Linked DNA regions of Homo sapiens. The protein of the gene in region 1 interacts with the protein of each later gene in a pairwise test. Each region holds a gene or a part of one and is shown in the gene's direction. Other genes may lie near its edges.

What was found.
Region 2: the proteins of SH3GLB1 (region 1) and SDF4 interact in binary tests that used the Homo sapiens proteins (3 or more experiments, as listed by UniProt).
Region 3: the proteins of SH3GLB1 (region 1) and SPIN2B interact in binary tests that used the Homo sapiens proteins (3 or more experiments, as listed by UniProt).
Region 4: the proteins of SH3GLB1 (region 1) and FASTKD2 interact in binary tests that used the Homo sapiens proteins (3 or more experiments, as listed by UniProt).

Annotation. Positions count from the first base shown.
Region 1 is NC_000001.11:86,734,970-86,742,900, forward strand, and holds part of SH3GLB1 (endophilin-B1), read left to right. Parts: intron 1-109; coding exon 110-210; intron 211-7,238; coding exon 7,239-7,467; intron 7,468-7,931. UniProt on the Homo sapiens protein: May be required for normal outer mitochondrial membrane dynamics. Required for coatomer-mediated retrograde transport in certain cells. May recruit other proteins to membranes with high curvature. May promote membrane fusion.
Region 2 is NC_000001.11:1,228,285-1,236,503, reverse strand, and holds the start of SDF4 (45 kDa calcium-binding protein isoform 2 precursor), read left to right. Parts: upstream 1-4,502; 5' UTR 4,503-4,612; exon of another isoform or gene 4,613-4,997; intron 4,998-7,557; 5' UTR 7,558-7,710; coding exon of another isoform or gene 7,711-7,731; coding exon 7,732-8,036; intron 8,037-8,219. Other genes in the region: B3GALT6 (beta-1,3-galactosyltransferase 6 precursor), read right to left, coding at 3,236-4,225. UniProt on the Homo sapiens protein: May regulate calcium-dependent activities in the endoplasmic reticulum lumen or post-ER compartment. Isoform 5 may be involved in the exocytosis of zymogens by pancreatic acini.
Region 3 is NC_000023.11:57,118,616-57,126,088, reverse strand, and holds SPIN2B (spindlin-2B), read left to right. Parts: upstream 1-4,540; 5' UTR 4,541-4,851; exon of another isoform or gene 4,852-4,875; coding exon of another isoform or gene 4,876-5,008; intron 5,009-5,454; coding exon of another isoform or gene 5,455-5,459; coding exon 5,460-6,236; 3' UTR 6,237-6,407; downstream 6,408-7,473. UniProt on the Homo sapiens protein: Involved in the regulation of cell cycle progression, this activity is related to the inhibition of apoptosis following the removal of essential growth factors. Exhibits H3K4me3-binding activity.
Region 4 is NC_000002.12:206,782,298-206,790,228, forward strand, and holds part of FASTKD2 (FAST kinase domain-containing protein 2, mitochondrial), read left to right. Parts: intron 1-936; exon of another isoform or gene 937-1,011; intron 1,012-4,435; coding exon 4,436-4,602; intron 4,603-5,639; coding exon 5,640-5,858; intron 5,859-6,521; coding exon 6,522-6,606; intron 6,607-7,931. UniProt on the Homo sapiens protein: Plays an important role in assembly of the mitochondrial large ribosomal subunit.

The DNA of each region.
Region 1 (7,931 bases):
TAGATACTGGTGAGTCTACCTCAGTACAATATTGTGGTCTGTCTCCCCCTTGCATTTGCCATTTAAGTTGACTATACAGCTAAGAACTAACTATAATTTTCCTTCACAGGCCCATCACCTTCGCTGTCTGAATGACTTTGTAGAAGCCCAGATGACTTACTATGCACAGTGTTACCAGTATATGTTGGACCTCCAGAAACAACTGGGAAGGTGATAATTTACTTTTCACATGTAAAGAGGAGAAATTCAGATTTTTGCTTATGAACTAATACTAAGGATGAAGATTAGAGCAATTAAAGGTTCTTACTAGCTTTCTTAGAAATAGTTTCTTTTTTTTAAGGAAAGTAATTATCAGTTTTCTGAGGTAACAGAATATTTTGAGCTTTTCTGGCACAGAGGCATGTTAACAGGGATGAGAAAAAGTGAATACCTTTTCAGTGCTGTAAGGTTAAAAGTGTTTCAAGTTCACTTTTCTCCTGCTACTGAATACTTTTTGCTATTGGTTGAGGAAGATATAATTAAATTGACAGTTACCCTTAAAGATAAACTAATTTATACTTATTCATTACTCATCTGTTTACTATATTGAAAAAAAGTTTTAGAATATTTCGTAAGACCTCATATCTACCGATGTGATTATTTTGAGTATGTTAATATACTTCAAAGCAAAATGACAGTATGTAAAACACAAAGCTCAATCACTCATTCATCACGTATTTATTGACTATCTGCCATGTGCCAAGCACTGTTACATATTGTGGGGTAATATCAGCAAACAAAACAGGCAAAGATGCTTGCCTTTATGGAGCTCACATTATAAGGTGACACTGAAAATAAAATAATGTTTAGGGCAAACATGGTCTCTGCTCTCACAACACTTAGCCTAGGTAGAAATACAAAGCAAGCCGTTGGTAGACAGGCCATGTGGTAGGCAGAAAAGCAGAAGGTGCCTGGTATTGTGAAGGCATCTAACTGTGACTGAGGTACATCTAGCAGAGTTTCCCAGGTGAAGTTATCTTGGTAGGAATAATCTAGATGAAGAAAGGGACAGGGATGAATATTCTAAGCAAGGAAGAATATGTTTATAAAAAAGCCAGAAGAAAGAGAGTAGGGAAAGTTCGGGGAACTGATAGTAGTCCATTCAGGCTGGAGCATAGTGTTCAAGAATGGAATGGTAGATGAATCTAGAGGAGTTAAGCAGGGTCATACCATGAATGGCTTTTAAAGTAAGTTGTTGTAAGGAGTTTGGAATTTATATATTGAGGAACCATTAAAGCAGGGGAGCGATATGTAGCATTTGAAGGATGAATATCAAAAAATCGTTTCAAGGAATAAGGTAAATAAAGTCACTTTGGTGTTTGTTTCTGCACATTAACACTTCAAAACTTGGCCTAGAATAAAATTGAGCACGTCCATGAAACCAATTTTGAACCTCAAAAATGAATGGTAGCCTAATCATTAGTTATTTTAATAGAATATACAGGAGCATTTACATAACTATATATTTGAGGTTTTATTAGTGGTGTTAATATCTCAAGGCAGAACAGCACTTTATCTTCACATCATTATAACTATTTTAAGCCCAAGAAGCCTTAGTACTTTTTTCCACTTTATCCTGAAACTCTGGAAGTGCGGCATAGGGGTTGCTTATACTCGCATTCTACTTAAAGCCACACTATGCTTAGGACTTGGCCATTTAAACAAAATCCAGTTGTTGCGTTATTACTGCTCTTTGAGATAAGCTCCAGCAATACAAAGTAAAACCAGTGCTACTATTCTAGAAAAGAAAGTCTAGCTTGTCTCTCCACCCTCAATTATATTATTGCTAATGACCAATGACATTGGAGGAAGTTTTATCTCTTTAATTTGTTGCAGGTTATGCTTTTTAAGATAATACATAGAAATATTCAAATATAGAACTTGACAAATCATCCAGCTTCACACTAACACATTCAAAAACTATTTATGAAGAAGAGAACCAGATTGTATTGTTAATAGTTGCAATAACAGTACCAACAGGTAGTAGAAGTAACTGAATAACAGCCATCACTTTGGTTGAGCTTAAGTTGTGCATAGGTGCTCTTCCAGACACCTCATGTGTATTATTAACTTTATAATCCTCACCACCAAATGAGGTAGGTACTATTATTATCCATATTTTAAAGATGAGAAAGCAGAAGTACTAGTCACAAGATTAGCAATTTTTTTAATAATTGGAAGGCTTTTGCATTTCAAGCTCCAGTGGCTTAATTGACATTTTTATAGAATGAGTAATTGCTATGATTTTTTAACGTATCAATAAAAGTTCTTAGAAGGTAAAAATGGCCTTTCAGTTCATTTTTTAAATCTTTAACTCTGCAAAATTGACATAGGTACACTTCAGTGGCTAATCAAAGGCTAAAATCATACTAGTAGATTTGGAAGTAAAATATGGTTAGAGAACTAAAAAAGCCATGTGTATATACATATTCATATAAATAGAGCTTTTTCTTATCTTCAGAAATGTATGTATTTAATCCCTACTGAAGAACCGAGTTCACTGAGGAAAGGATACTAGGACAGGTGGTCTTAATTTTAGAGAGGAAAAGCTATATTTAAAACTATTTCACCCTTTATCCATCAGAGAAACATTTGCTTTTCATTTTTAAAATGTACTGTTCCAGATGTGGGGGATATAGTATATAAATAAAATAATCAAAATTCCTGCCTTCCTGGAATCTACATTCTATATGGGGGCAGAAGGGAGCAGAAAAGCAATATGTATATAAATTATATAGTATATTAGAAGGTGAAAATGGTGTACCGGAAAATATAGCAGGAAACTACTTTGATGGGAGTAGAGAAAGACGTGAGAAAGCACACATGCAGGCATCTGAGAGAAGATGCTCCAGGTAGAGGGTGCAGCAAGTACAAAAACCCTGAGGGCATGACATAGCTGGTATGGTCAAGGAACAGCAAGGAGGGCTTGGCTAGAGACGAGTAGAGGAAACGGGGAGCCAAAACATATAGGGCTTCGACTTTGGTCTTTACTCAGAGATGAGGCGCCTTTGGAAATTTTGAGCTGAAGAGTGACATAATTTTAGGCTTTAACAGAATCATTCTGGCTGCCACGTTGAGGATAGGTGTTGGGTGGAAGCTGACTGATCTGTTTCAAACTTATTGCAATAATGTAGTCAGTAATTCAGTCAGAAGATGGCAGTGGCTTGGATCAGGGTAATTGTGGTAGGTAGGATGGAAGTGGTCAGGTCCTGTGGGCCTGTGGGTGTTGTTTGTTTTTTGTTTGTTTGTTTTGTTTTGTTTTGTTTTGTTTTTTTGAGACAGAGTCTTGCTCTGTTGCCCAGGCTGGAGTGCAGTGGCGCAATCTCGGCTCACTGCAAGCTCCTCCATCTGGGTTTATGCCATTCTCCTGCCTCAGCCACCCGAGTAGCGGGGACTACAGGCACCCACCACCACACCCAGCTAATTTTTTGTATTTTTAGTAGAGACAGGGTTTCACCGTGTTAGCCAGGATGGTCTCGATCTCCTGACCTTGTGATCTGCCCGCCTCGGCCTCCCAAAGTGCTGGGATTACAGGCGTGACTGTGGGTGTATTTTAGACTTAAAGCCAGAAGGATTTGCTTGACAGACTGTATGTATATTGGACACAAAGAGGTCAAGAATTATTGCAAGGTTTTGTTTTGTTTTGTTTTAGAGACAGAGTTTCACTCTTCCAGTCCAAGGTGGAGTACAATGGCGCAACTTCGGCTCACTGCAACCTCTGCCTCCCGGGTTCAAGAGATTCTCCTGCCTCAGCCTCCCAAGTAGCTAGGATTACAGGTGTGCGCCACCATGCCCAGCTAATTTTTTGCATTTTTAGTAGAAAAGGGGTTTCACCATGTTAGCCAGGCTGGTCTTGAACTCCTGGCCTCAGGCTATCTGCCCGCCTCAGCCTCTCAAAGTGCTGGGATTATAGGCGTGAGCCACCACGTCCATCTGCAAGTTTTTGACCTAAGTAACTGAAAGAATGGGGAGTTGTAGATAGTTAAAATGGGGAATGCCAGAGGAGGCAAAGATTTCAGGGATGGAGGTCTGGGAAGTATGTCAGTTATATTAGAAGCCCAGTTTTAAATATGTTAAGTTTGAGATGTCTCTTAAACATTTAAGTGGAGGTATCCAATTTTAGGATATGCAGGTCTGGACTTGGATTGGGGGCAGGGTGAATTAGATAATTAGAGAGTTGTCAGCATATCAAAGATATTTAAATCTGTGAGACTAGATAAACCCTCAAAGGAGTAAGTATAGAGAAAAGGAGAGGATCAAGGACTGATCCCTGAAGTACTCTAGCATAGAGAGTTGAGGAACGAGGCAAGGAAGATGATAACGAGTGAGGCAGTGAGGTAAAATGGAAACTAAGAGTATGGCCTGGAAGTCAAGTGAACATGTGTGAAAGTGGGAGAGAATGGTCACTGCCTAGGTCAAGTGAGAGGACTACGAATTGACCATTGGATTTAGGAACATTAAAGTCATTGCTAACCTTGACGAGTAGTTTTGGTGAAACAGTAGGCGCAAAGTAATGTTTGTAATATAAGAGACTCGGAGGAGAGGAATTGTGACCGTAAGAATACGTAAATCTTTCAAGGGGTTTTGGTGTAAAGGGGAACAGAGGAATGAGGCAGTAGTCGGAGGAGAAAGTGGGGTCTAGCAATTTTTTGCTTGTTTTTTAAGATAGGAGAAATAAGGGCATGTTTGTAAGCTGATGGGAATGATACACTAGGTGGAGAAAATATGATAATGTGGGAGGGAAAGGGAAGAATTGCTAGAGTGATACCCTAGAGAGGCAAAAAAGGATGAGATTTTGTGCACATATGGAGGAATTAGCATCAGGAGCATAGACAGCTCATTAAAGAGTTTCCTGGCCAGGCGCAGTGGCTCATGCCTGTAATCCCAGCACTTTGGGAGATCAAGGTGGGCAGATCACTTGAGCTCAGGAGTTTGAGATTAGCCTGGTCAATATGGTGAAACGCTGTCTCTACAAAAAAATACAAAAATTAACTGGGTGTGGAGGTGCATGTCTGTAGTCCCAGCTACTCAGGAAGCTGAGGCGAGAGAATTGCTTGCTTAAGCCCAGGAAGCAGAGGTTGCAGTGAGCCAAGATTGAACCACTGCACTACAGCCTGGGCAAAAGGAATGAACTCCTGTATCAAAAAAAAAAAAAGGAGTTCCTGATTGTTCTTTTTTCCTCTCAGTTAAAAGGAAGCAAGCTCATCAACTGAGTGTAATGGTTATGGGGAGAACTGCTGAAATTTTGAGGATGGGCAAGAGGGTATGAAATAGTCATCAGGGGAATGAAAGTGAAAGTGAATGGAGTAGAGAAATGTAGTATCATTGCCAGGTGGCATGTGGACCCACTTGAGGTTCCTAGTCATAAATTGAATGTAAAACAAAGCTTTTCTGTGTTTCTCCTGTTAAAGTAGATGCATGGATACTGAATAGGTAAATAGGTTTTTACCAAATCAGTACAATGAAGTGAGTGGCATAAGAAATGAGAGCATATCTAAGAGTTATTATAATAATTAACTATGGACATGAAGAAGGTGTTGGTAGGATCATAGACCCTGGTAGGCTTGTTGATGTGAGAGCACTTGAAAGAAAAAGGCGATGGTCAAAGAATGGGATAGTAGAAACTATTATTATTGGAAGGGTTGTGGTTACTGGAATTGGTAAGATCTAGATGTGACTGTGGGAATAGGTGGCTGAACTAGGATCAGGTATGAAGTCACTAGAAGAGAAGAGTTCGAGGATCTAAGAGGCTAAAGGGTTGGAAGAATTGTCCATTTGGATATTAAAGTCACCAAGAATTAAGTAAGAGATAATGTCAGTGAGCCAGGTGATAAAATCTTCTAGAAATGAAAGTAAGGGAATGAGGCATCTGTAGGTGATTGCAGTAAGAGATACTGGGTATCTCTTTTTTTAAAGAGTTGGGAATGATACAATAGATGGAGAAAATGTAATATGGGAAGGAAAGATAATATGATAAAATGTAATATGATAAAATATGATAATGTGGGAGGAAAAGATGATGTGCTATAGTTGAATAACATGAAGTTGAAGGATTGGCTAGAATTGTTTAGGGAAAAGAGTCTAAAAACAGTGATGAAGAACATAAGACTCCTCCATTGACCTCTAGGTTCAGTGATAAAAGAGGAGTATGGGAGATAAACGCTAGCACTGGAGGATGAAGGGAAGGTTTAGAGAAGAGGTTAAGGATACAGGGAATTTTGCTGATGACTGAAATGATTTCCAGATGGTATAGTGCTCGTGAAGAGAAAAGAGGACTTTTCTAGTTTAATGAATTTATTAAAACTTTGAATTTTTGTAGATCATTTTTTAGCTTAGAAATGGTTGAATTAGAATGATGTCAGACCAGCTATTTTGTACTGTTTTATATTTGGTATTATTGGGGAAACTAGCCTTAAAATAAACTGAAAATTCTAATTATCTTCAAATTATTTATGAGCACATTAATCACAAAAATCACTAATTTCTAATAGAAAATTTTTCTAAAAAATAGCACAAATGAACTTGTAAAATTTGTCCTATTCTACCATTGAGTCTTCAATTTCATTGAGATAATTAGCAGTCATATTATTTGAATGTCTACCTTCTCACTATGTGTATGTCCTTAAGGGAATAGTATCATTTCATCTTACGTCTTCTGCTTCTCATAGTCATGCTGAACATGTAGATACAAGTAAATAATACTTACATGTAAATGACAATAAATATTTTATTTGAATAGGAAAATGTGATTGGACCAGTTTATGAAAAAAAGGTTTAGTTATTCAAATATTTCTCAAAGAATTAAATTAAGAAAGCCTCATACTTGTAGTATCTAATATTTAAGTAGTTTTTCATCAATATTTTTATTTAGTAATTTATAAAGAAAAGATTAAGAAAACATTCTAATGGAAGTTTTTTGGGGAAAAAAGTATAGCCATTAATTTTAAGTTAATATTATAAGGACAGTTTTGAAACAGACTTTCAAGGATTTATATTTGAATACCACCTGAATTGTCTCTAGTATAATTGGCCCAAGAGGGAAAAGGAAGATAGATATACTTTGTCATTAACGTATTATTAATATCTATAAATCTTTTCCAATGTGAAGGTTGGTAGAAAGTAAACAGCGCCACCGAGTGGTGGTATTAAGGAGCTTTAGTCACTTGGAAATAAATAATTCGCTGCTTTCTTTTCAACAGTTTTCCATCCAATTATCTTAGTAACAACAATCAGACTTCTGTGACACCTGTACCATCAGTTTTACCAAATGCGATTGGTTCTTCTGCCATGGCTTCAACAAGTGGCCTAGTAATCACCTCTCCTTCCAACCTCAGTGACCTTAAGGAGTGTAGTGGCAGCAGAAAGGCCAGGGTTCTCTATGATTATGATGCAGCAAACAGTACTGAATTATCACTTCTGGCAGATGAGGTGAGTATTGTGGGTATGAGAAGGAAAATATATCACGAATTGACATACCTTCTAATATTATAACAAAATGCAAATTCCTCATTAGTTATTTGGAAATGGTTTCATAGATTACAGATAGTTATATTAACATAAAATTTTAATTAATATTCTTTAATAGAATATCATAGAAATATTTAAAACTTTTAACTGCCAAATAACTTGAAGATGTATAAAACTCCCTCCAATAAGATCCTTTATCTAGGCCAGACATGGTGGCTTACACCTGTAATCTCAGCACTTTTGGGAGGCCAAGGCAGTGGGATCACTTGAGGCCAGGAGTTCAAGACCAGCCTGGGCAACATAGCGACACCTCATCTCTACAAAAAATATGAAAAATTAGCTGGGCATGGTGGTGTGCGCCTGTAGTCCCAGCTACTCAGGAGGCTAAGGTGGGAGGATCGTTTGAACACGAAAGGTCAAGGCTG
Region 2 (8,219 bases), about 86 Mb from region 1:
GCAACGTCAGCTGGTCTCACAGTGCCACAGCTGGGGAGCCTGGGGCCGGTGGGGCCACAGGAGGGCCGTGACCCCCTTAGACCTGAGGACTCTGAGCTGGGACAGTCAGCCAGGGAGAGGGTGGAAGAGTCTGGGGTGACCCAGGCCGCGGGGGCAGCCCTGCTGCAGGCTGGACTGATGGAGGCCTGCCGGGAACAGGGTGTGTGCTGAGCCCTGCGGGGAGGAGATCTGGGCCCAGTCAGTGCTGGGCGTCTGTGATGCCACAAGGTTGCAGGAGCCCCTGCCTGCGTCTGCACCGAAGAGCGCCGGGCACAGGGAACTGGGCTGGCATCCTGGGGCTGCTGGACGGGGCGTCTTCCCTCGCAGCCCTGGAGGCCACGCTCCTGACTCTGGGTAGAGCCCTTCCTTGCCTGGTGGGGTGGGGGTGGAGGGTCCTCAATCCTTGGCCTGCAGAGGCATCGCCTGGGTGTCAGTCTCTAGCCACACAGTGGCTTTTTCCCAGGTCTTTTCTGGTAAGGACACCAGTTCCGTGGGAGTAAGGCCACCTCAGGACCTTGCCTTAACGCAATTCCACCTGCAGAGACCCGACTTCCAGACAAGGTCAGTTTGTAGCTGCTGGGTTAGGGCTTGGAATATCTTTTAGGGGGCACAGTTCAGTCCCGTAACAGGAGCCTTGACAGCCAGGATCCCAGCCAGACACAGGTGGGCAGGTGGGAACCTGGAGGCCTCAGGGGCGGGGGTGCCTCCGGATGCAGGTAGCACTTTGCATCTTGGGGGTGACCAACCAGGCCACAGGCCCGGCGGGTACCCAGGGCTGGCCCAGAGAGCTGGAGCCAACGTCAGGTGCCTGCATGCCAGCCTCAGGGGGCAGAGAGGCAGGACCATAGTCCCCAGGAAGAGGGCAGAAGGGGGTGCTCTCCTCCTGGGGGATCCTGAAGGGACCAGAGCCCATCCTCTTGGCTTGACCTGCATTCCCTGCCGGCCCTGTGCCTCCTGGGGGCTGTGTGCGTGTGGCTGCGCCGTGCCCGTCCAGCCCTGACACTGTCCCCTCCATGGTAGGTTCTCGGGGCCACTAGAGGAGAAACATCCGTGTGGCTGAGGAAGAGTTGGCTGTTTTGTATCCCAAGTTCCCACATGGAAATGAATTCGGTGACCCCCCATCTCCCGAGGGCCTCCTGGTTTGGCCCTGGTCTCCGGGAACCGAGTACCTGGGTGGGTGGGGAGCTGTACAAGCTAAGACCAGGGAAGGACGCCTGGGGGACGGATGCCACGGCCCGTGCACGGTCGATTGGAGCCGCAGGGCAGGGAGGATCTACAGGGCAAGTTCCAGGTGAGACCAGAGAGAGCTGCAGCTGCCCCGGCTCTGGAAGCCCCCAGCCCTCCCGAGGCCCAGCCTTCAGCCCACGTATCCTCTGAACCCGTTCACCACGGTACGGCTGGGGAGGGTCAGCCTGGGGCAGGCTTTGTTCTGATATGAAATTTAATGTCTTAGGCTGAAAAACACTAAATTTCCATTTTTTTGTAGGTCAGAAGTGGTTGCAAACTGGATTTTTAGACTCTTCCTGTTGGGGGTCTCGGACATTTGCTCTTTTCCACAGCGGCCAATTCTTCAGAGCCACAAAGAACTGGGCGACGCAGGCCAGAGGTGTGGGAGTCCAGCCCTTGGTTCGAATCCCGCTCTCCACTGTCCATGGGGTTCTCAGCAAGCCCTCTGGCCTCTCCAAGCACACGCAGGGTTCCTCAAGCAATTCCAAACTCCAGAGAAGACATCCCAGGTAAAATCGGATGGCAGGGACCTGGGACACCGCTGTGACGGGCAGCCCCTGGGCTCGAGTCCACAACTCCCACGGGAGGGCAGGGCCCCATCCTGCTCACACCGGGGTCCCCAGCCCTCGATCCTCACGAGTCCTCGTCCAAGAACAAACTGTGCACACACGGGCGGTCAGTCCTGGATTCAAGGTGGCCCATCGGAGCTCGAACTCAACGGCCTGACCTAGGGACGCCTCCAGTCCCACCCCTACCTTTTGGAGGTGGGAGAATCACCGTGCAGGTCACTGACCCACTGACCACAGATCACCACTCTCTCCCGCCCCCGTTTCTTCCTCCTGAGACCACTGCTGCCTTCAAACGCAAGTAACCCAAACCTGCTCCCAAACCCATGGCAAGACTGACCCGGAGCCTAACCCAGCCCTGCCCCGAGCCTGACCCTGATGCTCGAGACTAGACCCCAGACTGGACCCGGTCCCAAAGTGGGACAACAAAGACCACAGCGGGGACCACCCAGGTCCCCCAGAGAGAAAACCCGCGTCGGACTCCAGGGAGCTCATGGTAACCCCTTGTCCTGGGGCAGCTTCATTTTACTTTGGCAAGGACCGCAGTGTTCGCTTTTCTCATTAAACGAGGGGCTTTCAAGGATGTGTTAAAGTACGTGAGAGACGGGCCTGGTGCCGGCTGGTCCTGTTTTCTTAAGGCGGAAGTTGGGGAACCGCGTCAGCACTCCGGGGTTCGGATTCCTGGAACCTGGGGCAGAGTCTGAAATAAAGCAGCACCGGCCCTGTGTGGCGCGGACCCATGGGAAGCCTTGAAAGGAAAGTCTCTTCAGAAAGAAACAATGGGTTCAGTGACTTGTACACTGAAAAGATAGATGGCCAGTTTTAAAGTTCTCCTGCGTTTAAACACGGGCAGCAGCGGGGTTGACGGTACAGGCACCAAGTTCTGACATAAAAGTCTTTCCTTAAATCATGTAAAAAAACCGAGACGTGCGCACTGCCAACTTACACTCATCGACACAAACTTACAATATTTATAAATAAGTCGCAAGCAAACACTGAGTTACATTTACCACGAAGTCACTGGACAGAGACCAAAATCCCATGAAAGCGGATTGATGTGAAACCACGTTAGATCTGAGACGCAGACGTGAGAAACGCCACTGATAAGAGACACGGAAGATCGGAGCCCAGCCCCGTGAGCCGGTCGGGGACAGCACGGGGGTCAGCGTGCGGCCGGGCCCGGCTCAGGCTCGCTGAGGTCCAGGAACGGGCACCTCCACCTGGACACGGCGCGCTGCCCCGGCAACCCCCAGGGGTCTCCCAAACGCAGACCGGGACGCAGCGACCACAAGCGTGGCTGCGGGACGGGGGCCTTGGGGCCCGGGCGTAGTGCGCCCGCTCGGCACCTGCCCCAAGGCGCCGCCGGGTGAAGCAGGTGTCCCGGAGGGCCGGGCCGCGGCGGCTCAGGGGATGCCCTCCCTTCTCTGGCAGCACTGCGAGGGCGGCGCGGACCAGTCGTACACGTAGGACAGGCGCAGCTGCACCTCGCGCTTGCACAGGCGGCCCTCGCGCGCCAGCGTCGCGTGCTTCTCCAGCATGTCCTCCAGGCTCTGCTTGTGCGTCACCAGGTACTGGTTGCTGCAGCCGCGGGACCGGTATTCGGTGTCGAAGCGCGGGTCGTGCTCCCGCTGGACGTCCACCGGCGCCAGCCAGGCGCCCAGAGACACGTCCTCGCTGTGCCAGGCGCGCAGGTAGTCGCGGCTGAGGCGCAGGTAGTGCACCAGGTCGGCCGAGAGCACGTAGCCGCCGCCCAGCGCGTAGGGCAGGTAGTAGTCGCAGAGTTGCCAGGCGGCCTCGCGCCAGCGCCCCCCCGGCTTGACGCGGCCGCGGCCCGAGAAGAAGCCCCAGTAGAGGCGGCGGCGGCGCGCGGGCTCGCGGGCGCGCAGCTCGGCCAGCAGCGCGTCCAGCCGCGCGAAGGAGTCGTCGTCCGCCTTGAGCACGAACTCGAAGGCCACGTGCTCGTCCAGCCAGGCCAGCATGGCCAGCACCTTGGCCGTGAGGTTTTCGTAGGCGTCGCGCAGCGCGGGCAGCAGCAGCAGGTCCCCGTGCCGCGCCTGCTCCCGCTCCAGGGCGCGCCGCTCCTCGGCGCCCAGGCCGGCCGTGCCCACGGCAAAGCGCGCCCACACGTCGCCCGGGGCCCCGCGCCGCGCAAGCCACGTGCTGCGGATCACGCTGCGGCGCTCGGCGGCGCGGGGCGCGCTGGCCACCAGCACTGCCAGGAAGGCGGCGGCGCGCGCGGGCGCGGGGGGAGGCGGGCTGCGGCCCGACATCGCCCTGGGGTCCCCGGGCTCGGCCGCGCAGCGCGCCAGGTAGAGCAGCGCCGCCCCGCACAGCGCCAGCGTGCCCAGGCCTAGCGCCGCCCGCCGCCGCCACGCCCGCCGCAGCAGCTTCATGGCGCCCGCGCCGGGCCGGCGGCCCAGGCCGGACTCGCGAGTGCGCAGGCGCCGCCGGCTCGGGGCGGTGCGCGTGCGCACGGCGCTCCTGGGAGCGCGCCGGGGCCTTCCGCAGACGCCGAGCCCCGGGGCGCTCGGAGGCCGGCGGCCAATCGGCGGCCGTCACGTGGCCTCGGGCACCCTTGTCATTGGTCAACCTCGGAGCGGCCCCGCGACCGCTTCCGCCCGGAGGAGAGATGGTGGCGCCGGCGTCCCCTCCGTGAGGTCGCGCCCGTTCGCACCGCCCCCGCCCGCAAGAAAGATGGCAGTGGCCTGATCCGGGCCCGTTGGCGGCGTCACTGACGCTTCGCTCCGGTCCTCGGATCCCGAGCGCGGGGAGGCAGACCGGTGAGTGAGGGGCCCGGGACGGCCGCTGCAGGCCGCGGGGCCAAGTGTACGCCGGCCGGACGGCGAGGGCGGGTCTGGAGGCCGCCGCCGCCTCCCGCCTTGGGCTGGGGCATCGTCCGTCCGCTCGGCCTTGAGCCCTGGCGAGACTCCGCCGCCACCGGGGCTCCCGGGGTTCCCGGGGGCAGGGACAGGCCGACGACGCTGGCCTCCCCGGCCGCCGGCACGTCTGGTCTCCTACTGGCCAAAACCTACGAATGCCACCGGGAAACGGAGGCCCAAGGGGTCTGGTTGGACTCGCGTTTATCGGCGAGGCGACCTTGGACAAGCTGCCCCGCTTCCCTGCGCCTGCGCTTCCGCTTCTGAACCGCGTGGACCCTCATCCCCAGTTAGTAGGATTTGGAGATGTGAAGTCGGCTGTGTGGAGCCCTTGATGTCTGGCTCAGAGGCGGTGTTATGAACCCTGTTGAGCTTTTAGAATCTAACCGTGTGTGTTGTTAACTGCCAGAAATAGCCTCGTTCCACCAGAGCTGAAGCCCAGGGATGGCAAAGAAATAGCGTCTCTGCCTAAGCTGTTTCCCACGTCCGTTTTGCAAGGGTGTGTTGATTCCTTGCTGGGAACTGAGCTGCTAGGGGATGGCGAAGTCGAAACCCCATTCCGGTGGGACCGGCCCGCTCCGCTGTGCTGCGAACCTGGCACACCGTGATGAATAGATACTCTGAAGCCAGGAGAGGAAGCGCCACTTGATGGACTCCTGATATTTATAGTTACTTTTGGGTTACTTTTTATTCCCCCTTTTTCGAGACAGGGTCTTATCTTTTTGTTTTTGTTTTTTAAAGAGACGCAGTCTCACTGTGTTGCCCAGGCTGGTCTCACGATCCTCCTGCCTCAAGTAAACCGTGTAACTCATCAAGATATGTAGAATCAAGAACTAGCTTTATTTTCTCTAGGAACAAAGTACAGTCTCTTTGCACACAGCGTGTGTTTTACGACTGTAGTTAGTGGAGTCAGCACCAGGAGGAGGTGTCTTGGTTCTTATCCAGGACTCTCCCCTGGTCAGGCGATCTGGGACGACAGGAATAGAATTATGCCACCACTAGGGAAGGGAAAAGCCCTCAGCCATGTTCAGAAAATCAGGCCGGGTGCATGGCTCACGCCTATAGTCCCAGCACTTTGGGAGGCCGAGGCAGGAGGATCACTTCAGGTCAGGAGTTAGAGACCAGCCTGGCCAACATGGCAAAACCCCATCTCTACTAAAAATACAGATTAGTGGAGAGTGGAGGTGGGTGCCTGTAATCCCAGCTAACTGGGAGGCCGAGGCAGGAGAATCACTTGAACCTGGGAGGTGGAGGTTGCAGTGAGCCGAGACTGCACCACTGCACTCCAGCCTGGGCGACAGAGTGAGACTCTGTCTCAGAAAAAAAAAAAAAATCAGACATGAGCCCCTCACCCAGGGTTTCCTTCCTTGGGGGAACTCAGGCTTGTACCCCTCTTGGTTTGTGGCAGACTGCACTGACTTCAGGACCACTTTCATGGCGGCCCCACTGGTGTTTCTCGATACCTGGAGGCAGCATTTTTTCGTTTAATATTACCCAGGGTAGCATTCGTTGAGCGCCTACTGTGTGCAGGCAGAGTGGCAGGTGCCAGAACAGTGAAGCTGAATAAGACGGCCACAGAACAGGAGTCTCAGTCCATGTGTGTTGAGGGAACAGCTGTGACATGGCGGGGCCTCAGCGGCACCCGAAAGGACCCGCAGGTGTTTGCCGGAGGGGCAGACTGTGAAAGGAGTAGGCTCGTGGGTGAGAAGGACCCCGAGTTCCCTTTGGGATACATGAGGCATGAGGCCCTGTGAGCCCCTGCTTCCCACCAGGACTGGCCACGCCTCGGACGGCAGGACAGACTTCTGGGCTCCTCGGCCTTGGCGTTCGCTCGCGAGTGTGGGCAAGGGCACATGTGTGTAATACGTGCATGCGTGAGTGTGGATGTGTGTGTGCACATCTGTGTGTGGGGGTTGTGTGTTTGTTTGCTGGGACCAGGCCCTGACGCCCTCTGCACTTAGGGTTGGCTGTCTTCGCAAAGCCTGGTCAGTCGGGGGGAGAGGGGGAGCCTCCTGTTTCTTAGTGAGAAGCTGAGGCCGGGGAGGCCACATGACTTAGCTAAGGTCATAGATCTCAAGAATGTTCAAGTCAGGGTCTGGAGAGTGACCCTAACCCCATGGGTCAGTGGCATGATGCCAGGAGGGACAGAGCCGGGCCCCACAGGAAAGCTGTGCTGCAGGTGTTGGGCGATGGGGACAGGTTAGCCCCTGGAGGTGCTGACAGCTCGAGAGAGAGATGGAAAGACGGAGAGACAGGGCTGAAAACTCAGTGTCTGTAAAAAAAAGACCGGGCACAGTGGCTCACGCCTGTAATCCCAGCACGTTGGGAGACTGAGGCAAGAGGATCGCTTGAAGCCAGGAGTTTGAGACCAGCCTGAGCAATACAGCGAGACCCGTCTCTACAAAGAGTAAAATAAAAATAAATTACTGGGCGTGGGGGTGCACGCCTGTGGTCGCAGCTGCTCCGGTGGCTGAGGCGAGAGCATCACCTGAGCCCAGAGCATCACCTGAGCCCAGGAGTTCGTGGTCACGGTGAGCTGTGGTCACCGCTGTACTCCAGCCTGGGTGACAGAGCAAGACCCTGTTTCTAAAAATAAAGAAAAAAACACCACGTGTGGTCCGGAGAAAACAAATGCCACGTGTGGTCCAGAGAAAACAAATGCCACGTGTGGCCCGGAGAAAACAATGCCACGTGTGGTCTGGAGAAGGCAGTGCCACGTGTGGTCTGGAGAAGGCGATGCCACATGTCTGGATCCTGTGAATCGAGGATATGTTTCATGTTGCAGGATAGACGTGCTTGGGGAAGTCTTTGCTGAGTCTTGCTAATGATGTGTCTGTGTCTCTCTGCAGACTGTGAGCTGCTTGTCCCCATCCTGCGGCCGTCCTGGGGACACAGAGCCCTCCGTGGTGCCCGGGGATTGGATTGGAGCCAGGACCTCACTTCCTCCTCTGCCCCTGCCCCTGCCCCTCCCAGCACCTGGCCCACACCCTGCAGCCCGCCCCATGGTCTGGCCCTGGGTGGCGATGGCGTCCAGGTGGGGTCCCCTCATTGGCCTGGCTCCGTGCTGCCTCTGGCTCCTGGGGGCAGTCCTTCTGATGGACGCGTCTGCACGGCCTGCCAACCACTCGTCCACTCGAGAGAGAGTAGCCAACAGGGAGGAGAATGAGATCCTGCCCCCAGACCACCTGAACGGGGTGAAGCTGGAGATGGACGGGCACCTCAATCGCGGCTTCCACCAGGAGGTCTTCCTAGGCAAGGACCTGGGTGGCTTTGATGAGGACGCGGAGCCGCGGCGGAGCCGGAGGAAGCTGATGGTCATCTTTTCCAAGTAGGTGCCGCCATGTGCCCAGACTGGGGGGCTGTCCGCGTGCGCTCGCCTGTGTGTTCCTATCCTGGCTTTGCGCGGTGGGGGGCGCCGGGCCCTGTGTCGGGACCTGCCGGGCTGGGAAGACGTGCCGGTGATGAGCGCCACTTCCAGCCTGCTGTGTTTGCGCGGAGGCCTGCGCTGGCA
Region 3 (7,473 bases), on another chromosome or scaffold:
GAATAGAATAATGTGTGCCCCTTTGTTGTCTGGCCTCTTTTTTAAACATATTTCAGAGATTCATTTATGTTTTTGCATGTAGTTGTAGCTTGAACATTCTCACTACTGCATGATATTCCAATGTATGAATATACCCCAACATATACAATATACTGCTGATGGAAATGTAGGTGTTTTGTAGTTTGAAGTCATTACAAATAGTTAAACACATTTTTTTCTTTTTCAAACCACTACTGAGGTATGATTTACATACACAAAGCTGTACCTATTTAATGTATACAACCTAATGATGAACACATGCATTTTATAATAAAAAATAGGGTTTGAGATTTCAGTAATAGGAGACTAAACAATTCAAAACAACTTTCCCTGAAATCTGAACAAATTAACTAAATCTGAACAAATATAGTAAAAAAGAAAATCCACTCTCAATGGCATCTAAAAGCTGAGAAATACGAAATAATTACCTAGCTGAGATAGGAGGAGAACAGGTCCAAGAGGCAAACAGGGCATTTGGTGGATGTTTTTCTACTGGCAAAGTTTACCCATTCTAGAGGGAACCACTGAAAGACTTTGATGCTCAGCAGAACTTGTGACTGCTTGTTAAATACATGAATACAGAATCTGGAGTTCAGAACCTTGGTAACCCCCCAACCCCTTACTTTTCATTGAAATTCCAGGGTTGAAATCTTAGGAGTAACAGTTAACCACAGCTTTAAAAAAGCCCTCACTGAGCTTCATCCCTGGGACGCAAGGCTGGTTCAACATATGCAAATCAATACACGTAATCCAGCACATAAACAGAACCGAAGACAAAAACCACATGATTATCTCAACAGATGCAGAAAAAGCCTCTGACAAAATTCAACAGCACTTCGTGCTAAAAACTCTCAATAAATTAGGTATTGATGGGACGTGTCTCAAAATAATAAGAGCTATTTATGACAAACCCACAGCCAATATCATACTGAATGGGCAAAAACTGGAAGCATTCCCGTTGAAAACTGGCACAAGACAGGGATGCCCTCTCTCACCACTTCTATTCAACATAGTGTTGGAAGTTCTGGCCAGGGCAATCAGGAAGGAGAAAGAAATGAAGTGTATTCAATTAGGAAAAGAGGAAGTCAAATTATGCCTGTTTGCAGATGACATGATTGTATATCTAGAAAACCCCATCATCTCAGCCCAAAATCTCTTTAAGCTGATAAGCAACTTCAGCCAAGTCTCAGGATACAAAATCAATGTGCAAAAATCACAAGCATTCTTATACATCAATAACAGACAAACAGGGAGCCAAATCATGAGTGAACTCTCATTCACAACTGCTTCAAAGAGAATAAAATACCTAGGAATCCAACTTACAAGGGATGTGAAGGGCCTCTTCAAGGAGAACTACAAACCACTGCACAAGGAAATAAAAGAGGATACAAACAAATGGAAGAACATTCCATGCTCATGGGTAGGAAGAATCAATATCGTGAAAATGGCCATACTGCCCAAGGTAATTTATAGATTCAATGCGTTCCCCATTAAGCTACCAATGACATTCTTCACAGAATTGGAAAAAACTGCTTTAAAGTTCATATGAAACAAAAAAAGAGCCTGCATTGCCAAGTCAAACCTAAGCCAAAAGAACAAAGCTGGAGGCATCACGCTACCTGACTTCAAACTATACTACAAGGCTACACTAACCAAAACAGCATGGTACTGGTACCAAAACAGAGATATAGACCAATGGAACAGAACAGAGCCCTCAGAAATAACACCACACATCTACAACTATCTGATCTTTGACAAACCTGACAAAAACAAGAAATGGGGAAAGGATTCCCTATTTAATAAACGGTGCTGGGAAAACTGGCTAGCCATATGTAGAAAGCTGAAACTGGATCCCTTCCTTACACCTTATACAAAAATTAATTCAAGATGGATTAAAGACTTAAACGTTAGACCTAAAACCATAAAAACCCTAGAAGAAAACCTAGGCAATATCATTCAGGACATAGGCATGGGAAAGGACTTCATGTCTAAAACACCAAAAGCAATGGCAACAAAAGCCAAAATTGACAAATGGGATCTAATTAAACTAAAGAGCTTCTGCACAGCAAAAGAAACTACCATCAGAGTGAACAGGCAACCTACAGAATGGGAGAAAGTTTTTGCAATCTACTCACCTGACAAAGGGCTAATATCCAGAATCTACAATGAACTCAAACAAATTTACAAGAAAAAAACAAACAACCCCATCAAAAAGTGGGCAAAGGATATGAACAGACACTTCTCAAAAGAAGACATTTATGCAGCCAACAGACACATGAATAAATGCTCTTCATCACTGGCCATCAGAGAAATGCAAATCAAAACCACAATGAGATACCATCTCACACCTGTTAGAATGGCGATCATTAAAAAGTAAGGAAACAACAGGTGCTGGAGAGGATGTAGAGAAATAGGAACACTTTTACACTGTTGGTGGGACTGTAAACTAGTTGAACCATTGTGGAAGTCAGCGTGGCGATTCCTCAGGGTTCTAGAATTAGAAATACCATTTGACCGAGCCATCCCATTACTGGGTATATACCCAAAGGATTATAAGTCATGCTGCTATAAAGACACATGCACACATACGTTTATTGCGGCACTATTCAAAATAGCAAAGACTTGGAACCAACCCAAATGTCCAACAATGATAGACTGGATTAAGAAAATGTGGCACATATACACCATGGAATACTATGCAGCCATAAAAAATGATGAGTCCGTGTCCTTTGTAGGGACATGGATGAAGCTGGAAACCATCATTCTCAGCAAACTATCGCAAGGACAAAAAACCAAACACCGCATGTTCTCACTCATAGGTGGGAATTGAACAATGAGAACACATGGACACAGGAAGGGGAACATCACACAATGGGGCCTCTTGTGAGGTGGGGGTAGGGGAGAGGGATAGCATTAGGAGATATACCTAATGTAAATGAGGAGTTAATGGGTGCAGCACACCAACATGGCACACGTATACACATGTAACTAACCTGCACATTGTGCACATGTACCCTAGAACTTAAAATATAATTTAAAAAAATAAAAATGAAAATAAAATAAAAAGCCCTCACTGAAACTATGACATATCTGCAAATTGCTTTCCATAAAAATTGTATAAACTTTCACTTGCATCAGCACTAGATATGAAGCTTTTTCATGATCAATGACATTAAGTAATATTTTAATGTTCTTTCATACTTTGACTGTTGAATCGAGATTATTATTACTTCTATTTTTCCTTGTAGATGTTATTTTATTAAGTGTAGTTGTTCTGTTAACATCCGACTCATCCCCTCATTCAAATACCATAAGTATCTGAATAAGAAAGATACCATTAAGCATTGTTTTGTTTACAGAGTTTTTGGTTGGTTCATTTGCTTTCTGTTCAATTTTATTTTGCTGCTTTTTACCTTTTAATAAATCAAATATTGATACTGGTACAACATTAGTATACAACCTTTCTCAAAATATTTAAATAATTATTTCAACATTCCTTAAAGAATACCCAACGTTTCTCCACTGATTTATAAAACTATAACTTTAATTATTTCTTATAAAGTTATTTTTTTGCAAAGCTTTCTATTCCGATACATAGATCTGATTACTGGTTATTGTGGAAATATTATGTCAAATGCCCAGTACTGGGAGAAAAGCCAAATTATAAATCACTTTAAAATTGAGTTTTACGGACCAAGTGCAAGATATGTAACAGGTGCTCAATAAATATTTGTTGAATGAAAAAATCGATTAGAAAACATCTAATTTCCTGGAAAAATTAATAGACATGAATTGCAGATAAAAAACAAATCCCAGTTTTGCAAAAGTTTAGGAAAAAGGAAAAAAAACTATGAGCATTAATATTTTGCTGTGAGGCCCTCAAAAATGGGAGATGGGACTGCAGTTGATGATTTTCCTCTTAATATTAATTTCCTAAAATGTAGATAGTGTTCACGTTGTACATGCAATTATCTTGCAATAAAGAAAAGGAAAAAAAAATCCCTCGAAAACAAAAACAAAAATGCCAGGAAATATCAGTCAGCAAAAATTAGGTAGAGACTGGGTCAAAATGGCAGACTTACCATAGTGAATTTCTCTGTTCCAACTCCAAATCCTTTCAAAAAGAGGAAAGACATATTTACGTGTAAAGAATAAATCCATAAGGGCATGGGACGGTGCAGGGGCAGGGGTGGGCGCGGGGGTGGGCGCGGGGCGGCAGCAAGGCGAATTCCAAGAAGATGGAAAGCAGGGCAGGCAGACTAAGAAGGTGGAGGTGGGAACCAAGTGGCCCTGAAACGGGTGAGGAAGGGGCCACAGGGTTCCGAGGACGACTGTGGCACGAACTACTCCGGATTTGGAAAGAGGCGGAGTCAGAGCCCATAGCTCCGCCGGGGCTACAGGCTGTGTGGTGGGCGTGGGAGCCTGGTGGAGAGGAGAGCCGGGTGTTTGACAGGAAGAGGAGGCCTCTCTCTGGGCAGGAAGCTGCGCTACGGAAAGAGGGAGGAGACTGCCGCGGCGACAGCAGGGACTGGTGGAATCCCGATGTGGCTGAGGGGCCGCCACCGCCAGCAGGGAGGCGGAGGGCTAGCGAGCCAAGCGGTGGGGACGCCGCTGCCTTCCTCTTTGCCTGTCTCGCCGCCCTCCTAGACACGCTCCTCATCTACGGATCCTACCCTCCCCGCTCTTGCAAGCATTCACTCGGCCGGTCGCCTGCTGACCCTCCTTCGCCACAGGCTCGTAGCGGAGGCAGCAGCGAGGTGTCCGATTTGGGCACGTGAGGCCCGCGATCCCCGGCGGTGGACGCCAGGCAGGGCAAGGCCATTAGTGGGCGCCAGAATGGAGAGGGGGATGGGAAGGAATCCAGCAGGAGACATGGGGTGGAGTTGGGCGCCAGGCAAGGGTGGGGTGGGGGAGTGCGGTGAGCAACATGAAAAGGGGGTAGGAACGGGAGCCAGACAAGGATTTGAAGGTGAGCGCCGGGAAGCAAGGGCGGTGGGTACCAGAGAAGTGGTTAGGGTAGGCAGGGGGTGTTGTGGACAGCAGCTGGGACGCTCAGGGAAGGAGGGCAGTGGGTGCCGGTCAAGGCCTCTTTGCAAGGGGATTGGAAGTGGACGCCAGTGGTAGCAAGGGGTTCCGGGAGGGCAGTGGGCTCTGAGCTAGGAGGAGGTGGCCCAGCCACTTCTGCAGAGTTCCTAACCCCAGACAGCTCTACTGCACCACCCCAGCCCTTCCCCACAGCCCAAAGGAACTTAAGAGGGAGAGCACTGCGGGCATGCAGCCAGGATTTCCAGCATTGCTTCCAGGCTCCTAGGGGAAACTTAGGCACTAGCGCAGACTACATCCAGACATGGCTATAGGGAAAAGTTTGCCTTGTGGCACACTGGGTGTGTCTCTCTATCCTCTCTCCTCCCCCAGCAGGCATGAAGACCCCCAACGCACAGGAAGCCGAAGGGCAACAAACCAGGGCAGCTGCAGGACGGGCCACTGGGTCTGCAAACATGACAAAGAAAAAAGTCTCCCAAAAGAAGCAGAGAGGCCGACCTTCATCCCAGCCCCGCAGGAACATCGTGGGCTGCAGAATTTCTCATGGATGGAAGGAAGGAGATGAGCCCATCACGCAGTGGAAAGGAACCGTTCTGGATCAGGTGCCTATAAATCCCTCTCTTTATCTGGTGAAATATGATGGAATTGACTGTGTCTATGGACTGGAACTTCACAGAGATGAAAGGGTTTTGTCTCTTAAAATTCTTTCTGACAGGGTGGCATCATCTCACATTAGTGATGCCAACCTTGCAAATACCATAATTGGCAAAGCAGTGGAACATATGTTTGAGGGAGAGCATGGTTCTAAGGATGAATGGAGGGGGATGGTCTTAGCTCAAGCACCTATCATGAAAGCCTGGTTTTATATTACCTATGAGAAAGATCCTGTCTTGTACATGTACCAGCTTCTAGATGATTATAAGGAAGGTGACCTCCGCATCATGCCAGAATCCAGTGAGTCTCCTCCAACAGAGAGGGAGCCAGGAGGAGTTGTAGATGGCCTAATAGGTAAGCATGTGGAATATACCAAAGAAGATGGCTCCAAAAGGATCGGCATGGTCATTCACCAAGTGGAAGCCAAACCCTCTGTGTATTTCATCAAGTTTGATGATGATTTCCATATCTATGTCTACGATTTGGTGAAAAAGTCCTAACTGTTAGGGTAAAATTTGGCACATGTGTGGAAACAAATGTATAATTTGTAGACATGCAAAAAATGTTGCCTTTCAGTGTATTGAAAGCTTATGGAATCCCTGATAACTAAACATCTTTGCCAGCATTAACTGTTGTTTTGCTCTAAAAAATACAAACTTGTGTGTACATGACATGCTGTGTGTAAGCCCTTTGTCTTGTTGAAAAGATCGGGTGTGTTTGGTGAATGGGGCATGAAAAGAAGGAACAGCTATCAGAGAGCTTGTGGCTTAGAGGAAAATACACAGAATAAATTGAGTAGAGAGGAACACAAAGAACCTTAGAAGAGGTCCAGAGTAAAGAGGAGAAGGATCAACCTGACAGGGTCTGTGGAGAGGATAAAGGATACTCAATGGAAGAGGCTATGTGGGTTAGAGTGTTAGAGAGGTTAGAAGAAGAGGGCCACTGAGGAAGAAGGAGTTCAAAGAAGAAAGACTGACAGAGGGATTGGGAATACAGGAAAAGAGTTGTGGGGTGTGGGGCCCATGAGAGATCGGAAGGCCCAGGAAAATGTTGGACTTCTGGTAGTGTCCACATTGCTCTTCCTGGCTCTATGCACAAAGGAAGTGGCATCTGTCAAAGATGCCAGATACATTGGAGGTTCCCTAGAAGGGCATTCTGACAAGGATGACTCAGTAAGGTTAATCAGGAGGAAAGTTTATACCCGTAAGGCTTTTCCTGTTTCAGGGAGTTCAGGACGCTCCTACCCAGCAGAACCCCAACCCTCAGCCTGAACACACTAACACGGTTCCCCACATGTGCTGGGCTGCGGGCTGCCTCCTCACATTTGTCCTGCGCTAGATAAACAATATTGGTAGAGGATGGGTTAGTGGGTCAGAACTTAAGAGATGTGCCATCTTGCATTTGGAAAGTACTTTACCCAGAAAAAAATGGAACCTTACTGAACTCAGGTACAGCAGTCTCATCACACCGGTTCCTTCTGCTGGAATGTTTGTTTTCTATCTAGAGACGAGGGGCATCAGAAGATTGAGCCTAGTGTTTCTCTCCAGGTTATGGGGAGTTCCTGACTGTCCACACTTCTTTCAGCAGCTGCCTGAAACCACAGGTGGTTCCGACAAATAATCCACTAAAAGAGGCCTGCTGTCCCAAGAATCCACATTCTGGTTAGACCTTCCCCACAAAGCTGGTGTCTGCAGACCCCTCACAGGCACCTGTTGGCCAGTCTTGCCTACCCCAGCT
Region 4 (7,931 bases), on another chromosome or scaffold:
ACTCTTCTTGGTTTTGTTCTTGTCTGGAGTACGACAATATCTTAATTGGTTTCTGGACTTTTCATAAAGGTATTTTTGTCTATATGTCCTTGCTAAATCAGTGTTTCTGAGAAGCTGTGAGAACTGGACCTTCTTCTAGTTCAGTTTTGACCTTAACTATTCATTTGGTCTCAAGCTACTGCTTTCTATTCTTTTCATTTTAACCACAGCCATGCATTCCTACTATTAAATACAGTAATTCCTCAAATGTGCCAGCTTCTTTCATACCTCTGCTTTCTACCCAGAACATCTTTTCTTACTCTTTGGATCAGTCAGGGTTCATTAAAAATCAGAAAAGCATATAAAATGTCATTTGTTAAAACAGTGATTAAAAGCATGGACTCTAGAGCTAGCTTGCTTAGGTTTGAGTTTCAGCATTGCCATTTGTTAGCTGCTTGACTTTTGGCAAATTACTTATCTGTGCCTCAGTTTATTCACTTATTAAAATGGAGATGAGCTATGTCTAATCTCATTGGGTTGTTATTAGAATTAAATGAGTTAATCTATGTCAAGTTCTTATGACAATGCCCAGCACATAGTAATTTTTAGATTTGAAAAAAATTAGAGTGTAGGTCACAGAGGCCTTGGGGGAACAAACTAGGGCAGTTGTGAAGGTCTCAGTGGCAAGATGCACAGGCCATCTGTTTGCCATCAAATGACTTGACTCCAGCTGCTTGCTTTCCTTTTAGTTTTCCCTCCAGATTTAGATTTCTGAAAGAGAACATCTGATTGACTGAGTTTGAGTCAAATGCCCATCCCTTAGGGGCAGTTAATCAATTAAGTGGTGTCAGGCCAACTAAAAAGCAGCTTCCCACTGTACTGTCCACTGAATGGACAGACTCAGCTCATACTGCATTTCCTGTGTCTTCCCTAATTGTCACCGTCAGAGTCCCTGTGCTTGTCATGTCTTACCCAGTCTCCGGTGCAGCCTTGACAACAGGCTGCACCGGAGACTGGGTAAGACATGACAAGTTGTGTCACATCATTTGTTGTGTCAGTAAGTCTGTCTCTGCTCCTCAGTTGGTAAGCTCTCCGGAGTCCGACCCAGCTGCCTGTTTTTCTGAACTTAGTACAGGACCTGCCAAAGAGTAGACATTTAATAAAGGTCGAAAAATATCTCCCAAATTCAATCTTCCTTTACTCCCCTGGCTTCATTTTCTTCTGAGGCTGGCTCCCATTGATGCCTTGTACTTTCTAGACAAATAATATCAAGCTAAGTGGTAATTAAAACTCCAGAAACAGCCCCAGAGGGATTAAGAGAGTAAGTACTGGGCGGGTAAGAGTTTTTCAGGTGACTCCAGGCAACCTGAGAGATAACTTGTTCCAACAAAATTGTTACATTGAAAATAGAGGGGGGATAACAAAGGTAACAAAGGCTGGGAGGACATTTAATAAAATGGCAGTAGTAGAATTAGTACAGGAGGAGAATCATGAATGTTGTCTTTTTGTCTGTCTATTCTGCTTTCATTTAACCTAGTGGTTTTCAAACAGGGATGATTTTGCCTCCCAGGGGACATTTGGCAAGGTATGGAGATGGTTTTTAGTTGCCACAACAGGAGGGAGGTCTGTGCTACTGGCCTCTAGTGGACAGAGGCCAGGGGTGCCGCTAACATCCTACTATGCAGAAGATAGCCCCTCACAATAAGGAATTATCCAGCCCCGGATGTTAGTAGTGCTGAGATTGAGAAACCCTTACCTAATTCTAAGCCTCCCACCTCAACATTTCTCCAAAGGAGAAGTAGGGGCAATATGGCAGATATAGCAAGATTAATTAGTCACCATTTCCTGAATGCCCATGAATGTACAATTGCCTGGATTTGGTATTTTGAAGGCTATAAAAAAAGAAGTTTGTATTCCCTGCTCTTCCTAGACCATTTATGAGAACAACTCTGTTGTATATCCAGAGGAAGGCAGTACATGGTAGGCACCAAGTAAGTGCTTTATGGAGGAAGGAGAAAGGAAGATGGCAACTTATCTGGAGTAGCAAAGGTTTTGGAAGCAGAATAACTCAAAGTATTTGGGAAGAGAGTTGACTAGAAGAGATGGTTAGATAGGAGAGTGGTAGGAATTCTGGCTTATTGTATACCCACATGCTATACATTAATCATTATTTCATTTATGATGGCCCATCGGGGAGAGGGTGTTAAATCCAGAGTATCTTGCTGGGCTTTGAACCCAAGGAACAAATATGTAACGTTTAAGCTCTGTTGTTTTGGTCCTTTGGTTTCTTCTCTTCTTGATCTGTATTTACCACCTTATGGATAATCCCACATTTGCATCTGTGGTCATTAGTGTGCTCCTTAACTCCAGACCTGAGTCTCTGTGGGTTGCATATGGTCACTGCACATCCCAGAAGTGTCTCAAGTTCAGTAATTCTGGAAGTCAGCTATTTTTCTTGACTCATCGTTTTCCAATGACAAGCTCGTCCTCCTGTCTTCCTCATCAAAGTTTATTTGTTCGTTTAGTCAGCATTTGCCAAGCACCTGGACACTTAGGAGAAAGATGAATAAGACAGTCCTTCTTGCCAGAGGATTCTGTGTAATGGGTAAGGTAGATATGTAAATTGGCAGTTAAATATAGCATGAAAATTCGAGTGATCTAGCATATTAGTCTGTTTTCACGCAGCTGATAAAGACATACCCGAGACTGGGCACTTTACAAAAGAAAGAGGTTTAATGGACTCACAGTTCCACATGGCTGGGGAGGCCCCACAATCATGGCAGAAGATGAAAGGCACATCTCACAGGGCAGCAGACAAGAGAGACAGCCAAGCAAAAGGGGTTTCCCCTTATAAAACTATCAGATCTCGTGAGACTTATTGACTACCACAAGAAGAGTATGGGGGAAACCACCCCCATGATTCAGCTATCTACCACTGGGTCCCTCACAACACAAGGGAATTATAGGAGCTACAATTCAAAATGAGATTTGGGTGGGGACACAGCCAAACCATATCATCTAGGATATTTGGAAATAGAGGAAGGATATATCAGGATGCCAGCCTGGTGAAGAGGAGGGTCAGGGGATATCAGGCAGTGTTGCCTGGAGGGGTTGGTATCTGAGCTGATCTTAAAAGATGGAGAGATGGGGTTTTACCATGGAAAGATAAGCAGGAAAGAACATTCCAAGTGAAAGGCCCTCTATATGCAAGACCTGGAGGAAAGAAACAGCAGAGCACATGCAGGGAACAGCACACAGTTTGGGCTGCTGAAGCATGAGGTACAGGGTGAGGAGTGGGGCAAGAGAAGACCAGAGGGGGGATCATTACCCAGGCTCCCAACTTCCTTGTCCACACCATCCCCTGCCCCCGCATCCCACTGCATGTTCCAAAAGCAGTCAGTACTAATTTCAGACGTGCTGCCTTGCTATTGCGTATATGATCTGTTATATTCCTCCCATTTCATCATAATTCCTATCGTTTTCCTGGCCTTATCACAGCCCTTCATCCTCCCCAACACTTCTTCCCCTACCCATGGACCTCTCAGTTGATTTCAGTCTCATTGTTAACAAGGGCTTGTGTCCAGGCATATTTGCCCCAGCTGTTAAGAAACACTCCTCTGTACCTTCATCTCACCAGTTATTCACTATCAGGCAAGTAGCATGTGCTTTCAGGGCTGTGCTCAAATCTTCTTCCCTTATTCCATCTTTTCCACTTATTCAAATTCTCCTCCCAAAAGCTTCTGTTTATTTTCTTTCCTCTGCGAGATCACAGTACTTTGCATGTATTTCTTTTTTTATATAACTATATGTATCATATGCCCTGAGAATCAGATTGACGTGTGTTCAAAGGGTATCTACCATTTATTAGTGGTGTCACTCTGGGCAAGCGACTGCCCCTGATTTTGATCTTTTCTGTCTTCATTTGTGCTTAACCACGTTATACTGTGTACCATTAGCTGTGGGTGGTAGGATTAGGCTTGCAGTTCTTTTAACCCATAGTATTGATAACTAGATAATTTTAGTTGGTTATAAAACTGTAGTGGTGGTCCAGGCGTTATAGAAAATCTAGCATAATTATGAAAAGGTTCTGGAGCCTGACACCTTATGTTCTAATACTGCCTTTGCTACTTCCTTGTCTGTGTGTTCTTAGACAAGTTACTCAATCTCTAAGCCTGTTTACCCATTTTTTTAAATGAGGAGAATAATAGTAATACCCATGGAGTTTTTTAGTGTGAGTTAAATGAGTTAAAGTCTATAAAATGTTTGTCTCGTGCAAGACATACAGCAATAGCCAACATTTATTGAATGTATACACTTATTATGAGATAACCAACTGTCCAGAATGATGTGTGGATACTTACTTGCAAGGCTGATTTTCTTATCTCTTTTCTTTGGAATCGTTACAGATATTGGCCTTCTGTATATGTTGGGAAACTGACTTTTCTTTGTTCCCCAGACAGTTCGTGGAAGTTATGGCTAGTGCTCTGACTGGTTATCTTCACACTATTTCTTCTGAAAACTTATTGGATGCAGTATATTCATTTTGCTTGATGAATTACTTTCCCCTGGCTCCTTTTAATCAGCTTCTGCAAAAAGACATCATCAGTGAGCTGCTGACATCAGGTAGGATGTTAGTGCAGAATTGGTCACCAATTGTGACCAATTCTGCACTACCACTAGCTACCATATGACTCTGAATGGGGTCTTAGTTGGAGCAGTGTTAGTTGAAATTTGCAGAGCAGGTGTTGCTGTGGAAAGGGCTGATAATGGTGAAGTCAAAGGATAGTGCTTCAAAGCAGCAAACCTACAGACCCTTCTTTAATGACAAGTCCTACATGTAGAAAAAAATAAGGAATGCATCATTATTCCTTTTATTTATACTCTATCCTTCTATACAAAGGCTAACTGTTCAGGCTGTTCTTTATGCTTTGATCAGAGCTGTTTTAATTCCTAATCCTTACTTATCACATTTGAAGCCAACCTAAGTCAATTTTTGCAGCTGTAAACACTTGGTCACTCCTGGCCTGTGATGAGGGAACACCTGTTAGATCAAGAAACCAAATAGCCACCAAATTAATTAGTTCATTTACTCTTGGAACCAAATTAACTGTTGACTTTTAGTCTTTAGTATTAAATAAGGCAAAGCAATATTCAGGTAGATGTACAAAATTTGACGATGTGTCTGAGAATAGAGTAGTTCAGAATTAAAACATAAATAAATAAATGTTATAAAATCCCAAAGTTGAGTTGTAGAGAGTCAGTCAATAATACCACGTGCTGGTTTTTCAGGCAGTGTAATAATGGAGAAACAGCCTTGAACCTTGGAAACCTGGATTCTAGTTCCAACTTTGCCTTAATTACGAGGCTTTTTAACTTTCCTGGGCATTTCCTTATCCATAAATTGAGGAGTTTAGACTAAATGACCTCTAAAGATATTTGAAGCCTTAAAACATTATCAAGTGCAGGGCTTTGATTTAGACCCTGTGGAAACCAGGGAGACAAAGAGAGAGTCCTTGTGATAAGAAAGAGATAATTAGAAATACAAGTGCATTTATGTATATATTTATTATTTTATAACTATTACTAAATATATACTAATATAGTTTTTTAATGTTGCATTTATTTCTTCTTAATGATATACTCTCTTTTTCATCTTTTAGATGACATGAAGAATGCTTACAAGCTGCATACTTTGGATACTTGTCTAAAACTTGATGATACTGTCTATCTGAGGGACATAGCCTTGTCACTCCCACAGCTGCCGCGGGAGCTGCCATCGTCACATACAAATGCAAAGGTGGCAGAGGTGCTGAGCAGCCTTCTGGGAGGTGAAGGACACTTCTCAAAGGATGTGCACTTGCCACACAATTATCATATTGGTATGGGACATTATATGATTTCCTTTCATTTTATTGTATTTATTTTCCTTTTTTTCTGACCAAAAAAATAGGTATTTGTGGCAGCAGTTTAGTGTAGTGCAGCATTGCCTCTGGAACTGGCCTGATTCTTGCCTCATAAAATTCTTGTGACCAATAAATGAAATTCTACACATTTTTATGTGTCTAAAATCCCAAGACTAGTATCTGACACATGGTTAGCTCTCAATATATTTTAGCTACTGCTATTATCATTATTGGTAGTACTATTAAACATTTTGAAACAGAAAATCACTTGGGGCTGGTCACGGTGGCACACGCCTGTAATCCTAGCATGTGGAGAGGCCGAGGCAGGTGGATCACTGGAGCTCAGGAGTTCAAGACCAGCCTGACCAAATGGTAAAATCCTGTCTCTACCAAAAAAATACAAAACTTAGATGGGCGTGATGGCATGCCCCTGTAGTCCCAGCTACTCAACAGGGTGGGGTAAAAGGATTGCTTGAACCTGGGAAGTTGCTGCAGTGAGCTGAGATCACACTACTGCACTCCAGCCTGGATGACAGAGCGAGACCACATCTCAAAAAAAAAAAAAAAAAGGAAAAGAAAAGAAAAAGAAAGTCACTTGGAGGAATGTTTGAAAAATTAATATCAATTCTTTCCTTTCAGATTTTGAAATCAGAATGGACACTAACAGGAATCAAGTGCTACCACTTTCTGATGTGGATACAACTTCTGCTACAGATATTCAAAGGTTGCTTACATATATTTCATTTGCTGGGCTTTCTGAATTAAAATCCTAATTCTAAAAGACTTCATATTAAATAGCAGTAGTAAATCTAAGACTTGATGTTTGTATGGAGCCTGCAGCACACCAAGAGACTTGTCATCCATCAATGTACTCCTTAGAAAGTGTAAATGTGGACGTTATGGTTGAATACAATGGACTACAGTATTGGTCATTTAATGAGACAGACATTTTTTTAAAATTAGGTTTTGAAGCTATAGTTCAATAAAACAATATTAATATAATTGAAACTATCAATGCAGTGTAGACTTTGGACAAGATAATATAATAGTGATCATAAAGAATAAAGACTCGAGGCTTCTACAAAAATCAAATACCCAATAAATATTTTGCTCTACCACCAAGACTTTTCCAGAGGTAGAGAAACCGTAGTTTTTTAATTAAACTGTATTTGTATGGGTTAGAGCACATTGAAGCTAATCCTAAGTTGTTTCTTTGGCTCACACATTACAAATAGAGTGTCTCTGGGGAGAAATATGATGCTATACCATGAGAGAACATCCTGCCTCTTCAGTAGATGCATAAGATCATGCCATCATTGCACACACCCGTGGGTCAGTTACCCTTTATGTAAAAGCTCTGCTACATGGATCCTGACCCCAAGGAACTTGTATCTTCTGTTAACTCCACTGGACACACACACACACATAAATATGATAGAAACATACAAAAAAATCTGTAGGGATCCAAGCTCTTATCTGCCCATCCCTCTTCATTCACACACAGTTCTGTGACTTTCACCTCTTTCTGAATGCATCTAGCTTATTTCTTGGCCATCTTTTCAACCGCTGTCTTTCCTATTAGTGCTACCCATCTCCCCTCAGAAGAGGCTTTCTCTCTGACCTCATTCCAAGATCAGTTTTCTTTTTCGGGTACTCCGCTATTCTGGCATAATAAAATAACAGTTGTTCTCAGCATAAAGTCATGAGAAGTGAAGAATGTGAGCATTCCTTTAAAAACATAAAATTTGTCTTATAACAGCCAGAGTATAGGTGAAGGCAGTAAGGATATAAATGTCTTTTTTTTTTCTTTTTTTCTCCCAGTAAACTTAGTATTTCCAAAGTGCCAGGAACAATGAAAAAACAAATTACACCTTCCACATTTTCGTTATATTTACAGATTTTATTTTAACAGTCTTGCCTTTCTCTTGGTGTTTTCTTTCTTGTATTTAAACTCCTATTTCTGTTTTTTAAATGCTGCTTTCTCTGGGAGATGATATGTGTAAGAAGAGCATTTACTATTTGGTATTATTTACACCGTTACTACTACTG